Linked DNA regions of Homo sapiens. The protein of the gene in region 1 interacts with the protein of each later gene in a pairwise test. Each region holds a gene or a part of one and is shown in the gene's direction. Other genes may lie near its edges.

Region 1 (5,688 bases):
GGAGTTCAAGACTAGCCTGGGCAACATGGCGAAACCCCATCTCTACAAAAAAAATAACAAAAATTAGCTGGGCATGGTGACATGCCTCCGTAGTCCCAGCTACTCAGGAGGCTGAGGTGGGAGGATTGTTTGAGCCCAGGAGGTTGCGGCTGCAATGAGCCATGATCACACAACTGTACTCCAGCCTGGGTGACAGAACAAGACCCTGTGTCAAAAAAAAAAATTCCCTTAAGACTCTTCAGTGTAGAGGCAAGATTATCCATCTCTCAGGCATCCTGATTCATTGATGCAGGTGACCCCACATTGTTTTCACCTTGAAGGTTGTCGTTTAATTTTGTGTGTGCCCAAGTGCTGACAGATAAAGAGAATTTATTGAGGCTTGGCACTTTGCAATTATTTTACATGCATTATGTCAGTAAATCACAACTCTTTCAGAAAACACTATTATGCCCATTTAATTTGCCATGGCATTTATATTAAATGCCATGAAATTTTCTTTCTTATTTATTTATTGAGACGGAGTCTCTCTCTGTCACCAGGCTGGAGTGCAGTGGTGCGATCTCAGCTCACTGCAACCTCCAACTCCCTGGTTCAAGCGATTCTCCTGCCTCAACCTCCCGAGTAGCTGGGATTACAGGCACGTGCCATGACGCCCAGCTAATTTTTGTATTTTTAGTAGAGACGGGGTTTCGCCATGTTGGCCAGGGTGGTCTCAAACTCCTGACCTCATGATCCACCCGCCTCAGCCTCCCAAAGTGCTGGAATTAAAGGCGTGAGCGACCGCACCTGGCTGAAATTTTCTTATTTATAAATAAGAAAATTGAGGTTCGGAGAGGTTAAATAACTGTCTCAATGTTACGGTGTTCTAGTAAGTGTCAGACCCTGCATTTAACCTAGATATCTCGACTGCAGAGCCCATTCTTAAGTGCCACCTTGTGTCTTTGAAATGTTCATGTGAAGCATCTAAGTGCAGGTGAGATACCACTGCGAGCTCCCTGCTTTATGTGTGGTTTCTTCGTGCTCTTTTAGGGCTTTGCTTCTGAGACCTTTTTGTACAGTGACTGCTCACTGGCAAAGAATGGAAGAGGAAGGCTTGTCATCTGAAAGATGCAAGATAATGAAAAAAGGAGAATAAAATACAATAGAATGCCAGGGTGGGTGGAGGAGAAGTTGAGTGGGTAATAGGTAGACAAGGGTTAAAGATGAGGAGAAAGGATAGGAGTGTGGTTTCCATACATTATTACTCTTATTTTCCCCCAGTGTTCATACTTAAAAATTTTAACTTTGACATACGAATACTTAGCTTTGTATACTACTTCATATCTTTTTTAGAGCAAAGTAGAATAAAAACAAATAAGTTTTATGACACTTGGCAGATGAGCAAGCCTCTCTGAGCCTCAGCTTCCGATTTCCTGAGTCAAAATTGTTGGCTAATGTCCACATAGGAGATATCAACATTGAGGTGGTGGTTAAAACCAACAGAATGGATAAAGTTACCTGGGAAGGGTATTTGGAGAAAAAATAACACGTGGACCAAGGGCAGAAACCCTGTCATCCCTGCATTTTCCGAGGCCAGAAAGGAGCAGAGATGGAATTCACCAAGACTCAAGGAGAGATTTTTGTCTTAGAAGCCAAGGGACCCAGTGGAAACTTCCCCCAGGCAGTAACCTTAGTTAAAGGCCAGGTTATAAGAAATAAATTAAAAATTAGGAAGTATAAGAAATGAACTAGAAAGTCCAACTGCTGTTTAGCTGCAGCCGGTTGCTGCTGCTGTGAAGTGTAGGCCTAATGGTCCAGAGCTTATCTTTTTAAAAAAAAAAACTAAAACCATGAATTTTTACCCCCAAATTCCCAGTTTTTAATGTTATCAACTAATTCAGATTTTTTGAAAAACAGTATTTGGCTCAAGTAAATTATATGTATGGAGATATATATATATATATATATATATATATATATATATATATATATATATATATATATATATTTTCATATGGGTTATATTTGTTCTGCTGGGCTCTAGTTTTTAATCTCTGAATAGTGTTTGTTTTTTTCAAATGGAAAACATAGTCCAGAAAGGCCCTGTAAGATAATTACATGGCAGTATCAAGATCGTTGATCTTCATCGATAATCTTTTCCAGAACAGTTGCCTGGAAGGGTGAGGACATTTTTGCATTAAGTAGTAAATGGGAGATGAGTGACATTAGCAAGGGTAAACAAAGACACGTGGTTGAAGAGAGAGAATGATTGTTAGGTGGGGACATGGATGAAGGGGAGTCACATTTCTGTGCCTTGTTAACATTTTTAGCTCACATTCAAAGTAACAAAGAACAATTCCTACCTTTGTATTTACCGAATATATTTGTTTAATGCTATGTGTGAATGATCCTAACATTCTCTCTCCCCCCACCCCCACAACCAATTTGACAGCTTTTTTTCCACTTACAAAGAGAACGGTCCTTTCCTGAGCACAGAGCTAGGTTTTACGCTGCTGAAATTGCTAGTGCATTGGGTTACTTACATTCCATCAAAATAGTATACAGGTACAATTTTAAAATATACTTGTAAAAATTGTATATAACAATATTTTATTTCGGTTTGTATTCAGTTTTGCGTTTCTTTCCTTTTAATTTGATAGAGACTTGAAACCAGAAAATATTCTTTTGGATTCAGTAGTAAGTATTCTCTTTTAAAAATCTACTAGTTCTCAATTTTTGTTGTTGCTTTTATGCTTAGTGCAAAAAAAGTCTCAGAGATTCTGTACTGCGTTATTTTATTTATATAACATTCTCAAAATGACAAAACGGTAGGGATGGAGAACAGATTAGTGGTTGACAGGGTCCAAGGGGATAGAGAGTGCAAAGATAAAGGGGTAGCATTAGGGAAGTTCCTTTGGTGGTGGTTACACAAATCTATACATCTGTATTGCGTAGAGCTACACACACACACAAAGCATGCATGTAAAAAGTGAAAACTGAACAAGGTTGACAGTCTGGTTAATAGTATTGTACCAATGACAATTTCCTCTGTATACTATTTTGCAATTTCATATGGATCTATAATTATGTCAAAATAAAAGGAGTTTGAAAATTGTTAATTTATTGGCCGGGTGTGGTGGCTCACGCCTGTAGTCCCAGCACTTTGGGAGGCCAAGATGGGTGGATCACTTGAGGTGGCACGCCTGGGCAACATGGCGAAACACCATCTCTACTAAAAATGCAAAAATTAGCCAGGTGGCACGCGCCTGTGGTCCCAGCTACTCAGGAGACTGAAGCATGAGAATCGCTTGAACCCAGGAGGCAGAGGTTGCAGTGAGCCGAGATCACACCACTGCACTCCAGCCTGGGCAACAGAGTAAGACTCTGTTTCAAAAAAAAAAAAAAAAATTAACTGAAAAATTGTCAATTCATATTTATGCATTGTTTTATCTTACTGCCCCTGTATTTGTCAGGGACATGTTGTCTTAACAGATTTTGGGCTTTGTAAAGAAGGAATTGCTATTTCTGACACCACTACCACATTTTGTGGGACACCAGAGGTAAGAAATATATCTCATTGTCATTTATATAATCATGTATAAAATGCAAATATGAATTACAGATTGCATATATAAATTTAAAATAAGAAAAGTAGAATAAAAACTGTCATTTCAGCTTCCAGCCAGCTGGAAATACCTGATAATCATGCCTTGATAGTTGGGTATTTTTAACTGTGATTGTTAGATACTGCAAGACCCTTTTGAATAATCCAACAAATATAAATTATGTTTATTTGTTTTTAGTGTTAGAAGTTTACCTTAGGCTTCTTTATGCATTTAATTATATTTCTTTTTTTGTTTTTGTTTTCTTCTAAGGTAAATATTGTAGAAAATTATATTTCTAATCCTTTAAAAATCACAAATCAGTGATGAAAGTGTTCTTTCTGTGACTATGTTAACAACATTGAATCACACACTTTAAATGGGTGAATTGTGTGATATGTGACTATTTTAATAAAGCTGTTTTTCTTTTAAAAAATGAGCTAAAGCAAATATGGCAAAATATTAACACTTGACTATATCTCAGTTGCAGTTTATTGGTTTCTCTTGTTTTTTATATGCTTGAAATATTTTGTAACAAAATTAAGTGTTTACTTACTAGAAGAAAATAAAGCAGTGGATATGGAAAAACAAATCACAAATCAGAATTTATTTATCAGAACATCCCATTTTCTAATCATGTTAGCTAGCAAAAAAAGTATCTATTTGTGACAATAGTAATGATCCTTACAAATCATGTAAAAGCTTTATTATTCATACTTCACACACATAAACAAGTTTAGTTTATTTTGAACTGTCCAAATTCCAAGGTATTTATAATGATTTTAGGTACCACATAATATTTCATCTTTATCGTGGAGTACTTGCAAATACAATGTTGAAAACGTGTGAGAGAATGGCTTCTAACTGAGTTCAGAAACTTAACTAAAAGTATCTCTAAGTAATAAATATTTACCTTGAAATGGGTTTTTCCTTCTTTTTTCTGTCTAACCCTAGTGCTTGTATATATTTATAACCATTGTGTTTTGGTTTCTGGATGAAGAAACATTCTTTGTTATTGTATATTAATTTCATAGTTAAAATATTTTGCCATTTCTTTTCTTTTTCTTTTCCTTTTTTTTTTTTTTTGAGATGGAGTCTCGCTTTGTCATCCAGGCTGGAGTGCAGTGGCGCAATCTCAGCTCACTGCAAGCTCCGCCTCCCAGGTTCACGCCATTCTCCTGCCTCAGCCCCCCGAGTAGCTGGGACTACAGGCGCCCGCCACCACGCCTGGCTAATTTTTTGTATTTTTGGTAGAGACGGGGTTTCACCGTGTTAGCCAGGATGGTCTCGATCTCCTGACCTTGTGATCCACCCGCCTCAGCCTCCCAATATTTTGCCATTTCTTTAGATCACATAAAAAAGCTTAAGAGGAAATTATTTTCTTACATGTATTTCATATGGGAAGAGGTAATATATTTTGGAATGTAAAATTCAAGTTCACTGTCTTAGATGTGTTAAGTTGTGATCAGTCTAAATTTCCTACAAATTAAAATGTAAATAGACATCTACAACTTATACAAGTTTTCTAAATAATATGTTAGAGAATTGCTGTTATAATTCTCAGATGAGAATGCAATTCTTTCTTTTTTACTGAAAAGAAAAAAAAGGATTATAATTGCTACATTAAGTATTCTTGCCGGGTGCCGTGGCTCATGCCAGTAATCCCAGCACTTTGGGAGACCAAAGTGGGCAGATTGCTTGAGCCCAGAAGTTCCAGACCAGCCTGGGCAACATGGCTAAACCCCCGTCTCTATGAAAAATACGAAAAACTATCCAGGTGTGGTGGCGCATGCCTCTAGTCCCAGCTCCTCAGGAGGCTGAGGTGGGAGTATCACCTGAGCCCAGGAAGTCAAGGCTGCAGTGAGCTGTGATTGTGCCACTGCATTCCAGCTTGGGCGACAGAGAAAGATCCTGTCTCAAAAAAACAAAAAAATTATTTAAGGGGAAAACATGAATAATGACCAAATGAACTTCTAAAATAATCTTTGAAAGACTTTCCCCACAAATACCTACATCACCTATTGGGAATTATAGATTCTACCTTCGCGATACTCTTATTTATTTTAACTGTATCACAGTTTCCAAGGAGAAATGCAGAATACATGTA
Region 2 (3,110 bases), on another chromosome or scaffold:
GCCTAAGCCAGCTGAGTCTCTATCATAGCTGAACCCTGAGGACAGCCTCATAGCTCATGTATCAGGGACTTTTGCCACATTTCAGAGGCATAGCATGAACAAGTAATATTAAGCCAAGAATAAGCAGCAGAACCCTGTTCCATATGGAAAAAAGAAAAACAATTTTTTGTCCCTAATGTTCTTCCTTTTACATCCTGGAACAACAATAAAAACATTTTTTTAAACTTGTCTACTGTAAGATACTGCCATCATAAAGCAGAGACTTACATGAGTGAAAGGGTTGCCTCATCAAGCAGCTCAGTGTAAATGGGGAGGCTAGGCTCTCCCCAGCCCTATGGTTTTTTTATTTCATGTACCCCAGGAAATACTGTGTGGTTTCTAAAAGCCCTGGTTGTTAAAAGTAGGGACTCTGCCTTTTTGTTGGTAGGGAGAAAAAACGCTATTGCTTTGTCTTACAGAGCGAATGTCTGCCAACTACCCGTTCATTATATAAGTCTGAACTTGGTAATATATGGCTAATGAAGATTAAGCCCTCTATAAAGACTTCCTGTTGAGGTGAATTCTCATACTGAAATGTAGTTACCTACAATATTTACTAGAGATTTATGAAATTAAATTAAGAGATAATGTAAGAAAATACATTTTTTTGGTTCTATATAATGCTTCATGATTCATTTAGGGACCTAGAAATATTGTGTGAAAATATATAAATATCACCCAAAAGGCTTTCTGCCCTATATTTTTAAAATACAGAATAGTTATATTTGAAGTAGCCCTGGCCCTAGTTCTATAGGGCTTGGCTATTTAATATTTTTATGGAAGAAGTGTTTAGTTCTGGAAAAGGTAAATGCTTGTATATATTTTTGCAGCCTGGGATCTCCCTACTCCATTTTTTCCTTTAATTTAAGTGGCCACATGTATATGTCTTCCCTGCTGTGTTAGGAAAATGGGGGCTGGATATCCCAAGAATCAGAGGTTATATAAAAATACTGCAAATAGACCGCAGACATAAATATCTACCAAATGCTATCTTAAATTTTGGTCCAAACTGAACATATGGAAATAGATTTATTGTAAGTATTTACTTAGAGCTTTTTCTTAAATCTGAACTAACTTGCTTTTAGAAGTCTTTTTCTTTGTAAGCATTGTAAATGCTAATAAATCCTGTTAATTTTTTTTTTTTTTTTTTTTTTTTTTTACTGCATGTTACATTGAAATAAAAACAAAGTAAAATGAGCAATTGCCTTATTGTTCTGCTCTTTTGCAGGGGGTGGGGGTTGGGGAAGACAGCATTCCACAGCCTGGTCAGGAGGGAAGGACCTCACTTGTTTCATCAAATGGAGTGGTTTAAAACTGATCAAGCAGCTCATAATAATGAATTCCTGCTCTGTCTTTTATTATCTTATGTCAGAGTGCAGCAAAATCTCATTTCATAAGACTTACAATAACTCTATTTAAAATTCAGGTATTGTACTCGGGAGGCTGAGGTGGGAGGATCCCAGGAGTTCAAATCCTGCCTGGGCAACATAGCAAGACCCTGTCTCTTAAAAAAACAAAAAGACATATTCAGGTACTGATTTTTCATCAAGAGATTGACATACCAATGATCAGAAATTTTAGTGAAACTTGACTCAACTATACACAAAGTTCTCATCCTAAATGAACTATTTCAGTCAAGCCCACTCTACCACTTTTTACTTATCTGGTTAATAATCCGAAATGTTACCGGGGTTGACTCACGGAATTAAATTTTTCCTCTATTTTTATATCCTTTCCTGTTGTGGATGTAACTTACCTTTCTAAACTCCTTTAGAGTTAACGACTTCTATTTAGTATTGTTGGTATCTCCAGCCCCCCTCCTTTTTTTGTTTTTCTTTTAGTTATTTACTTTGTTTGTATAATTTGCTTTCATTAACTAAAAATGGAATTGGCAGCACTGGATTGTATATTACTGTATTAAGAGTACCTTTGTTTTCTTGATCTGTTACTTTTAATACTCAGGTAATGCTACAAATATTACAGGGAGTCAAATGCTTTTATAAAGTTCCTTCAGTGGTTGCCTCACTTGCGTTTTCCTACAAGATGTAAGACTGTTTATAATTAAACTTTTTTGGTCCTTCATTTGCATGCTTTTCTATCAGTCTTGGGTAAGGAGGGGTCTCTTTCCTCTCTCCCCGGCCCCACCTTCTGAGACTTATATGTGACCAGGTCACATAGATTTCTGCCTCTCTGCTTTTTTAAGTGGCAAGTTACAGCCCATCTGGATTGTGGTATTGTTCCCAGACCAAATCAAGGGTTGGACTGCTTATTCTCGCAGCCCAATAATGAGGTGCAGATGAACTGAGAAAGGAGGGAGTTTATTTCTGTAACCAGGTATGGGGAGAAAGCCTGGAAATGATCCCAAGACCAACTCAAAACTACAAAGTTTTCCAGAGCTTATTTACATTATAAGCTATATGTCTACATGTGAGTGTACATTCATCTAAAGACATAAGTGATTCACTTTTTTAAATCTATAAATAAGATCTGAGCCCTGAAGACCTTCCTCTGGAGCCTCAGTAAATTTACTTAATCTAAATGGGTCCAGGTGCTGGGGTGATTACCCTTATCTTGTTTCCTGCTAAATCATGGAGGTTTGGGGACTTCCTTCAGACCCCCAGTAAACTTGTTTGTGGAGGCCTTCAGACCCCCTCAATAAGTTCCTTCAGACCCCCAATAAAACTTGTTTAATCCTAAATGGGTTCCTTTGTTATCTTGTCATGCTTCAAGGCCCAGAAAAGGCCTGGGCAAAACCCTTGGTGGCCTTTTGTTACATTCTAGCCTTTGCATAAGGGCCCTCACTCTTTCAGCTTTTAATATTTAACTTAACCACTCAGTGCTGAAACAGTTGTTATGGAGGCCTGCGTTATTGAGATCTGGCCTGCCACGGTACGGGTAGAAAAAAACTAGAAAGAGCTGTTGCAGATGAGACTGGATTTGGTGCCCATGTTGAAGATGAAGATATCTGCAGGGGCCATCAACCAACATAAAGGCCTCCATATGAATTGCTTTTCTGAGACAACTAAAAGACCGGGACCACAGGCATGAGTGCTGAGTAGAGAACCACCAAC

Evidence for each region. The genes of interacting proteins can lie anywhere in the genome.
Region 2: the proteins of C8orf44-SGK3 (region 1) and ITCH interact in binary tests that used the Homo sapiens proteins (3 or more experiments, as listed by UniProt).

The regions. Positions count from the first base shown.
Region 1 is NC_000008.11:66,837,572-66,843,259, forward strand, and holds part of C8orf44-SGK3 (serine/threonine-protein kinase Sgk3), read left to right. Parts: intron 1-2,431; coding exon 2,432-2,544; intron 2,545-2,639; coding exon 2,640-2,676; intron 2,677-3,452; coding exon 3,453-3,539; intron 3,540-5,688. Other genes in the region: serine/threonine-protein kinase Sgk3, read left to right, coding at 2,432-2,544, 2,640-2,676, 3,453-3,539.
Region 2 is NC_000020.11:34,509,273-34,512,382, forward strand, and holds the end of ITCH (E3 ubiquitin-protein ligase Itchy homolog), read left to right. Parts: 3' UTR 1-2,501; downstream 2,502-3,110. UniProt on the Homo sapiens protein: Acts as an Acts as an E3 ubiquitin-protein ligase which accepts ubiquitin from an E2 ubiquitin-conjugating enzyme in the form of a thioester and then directly transfers the ubiquitin to targeted substrates.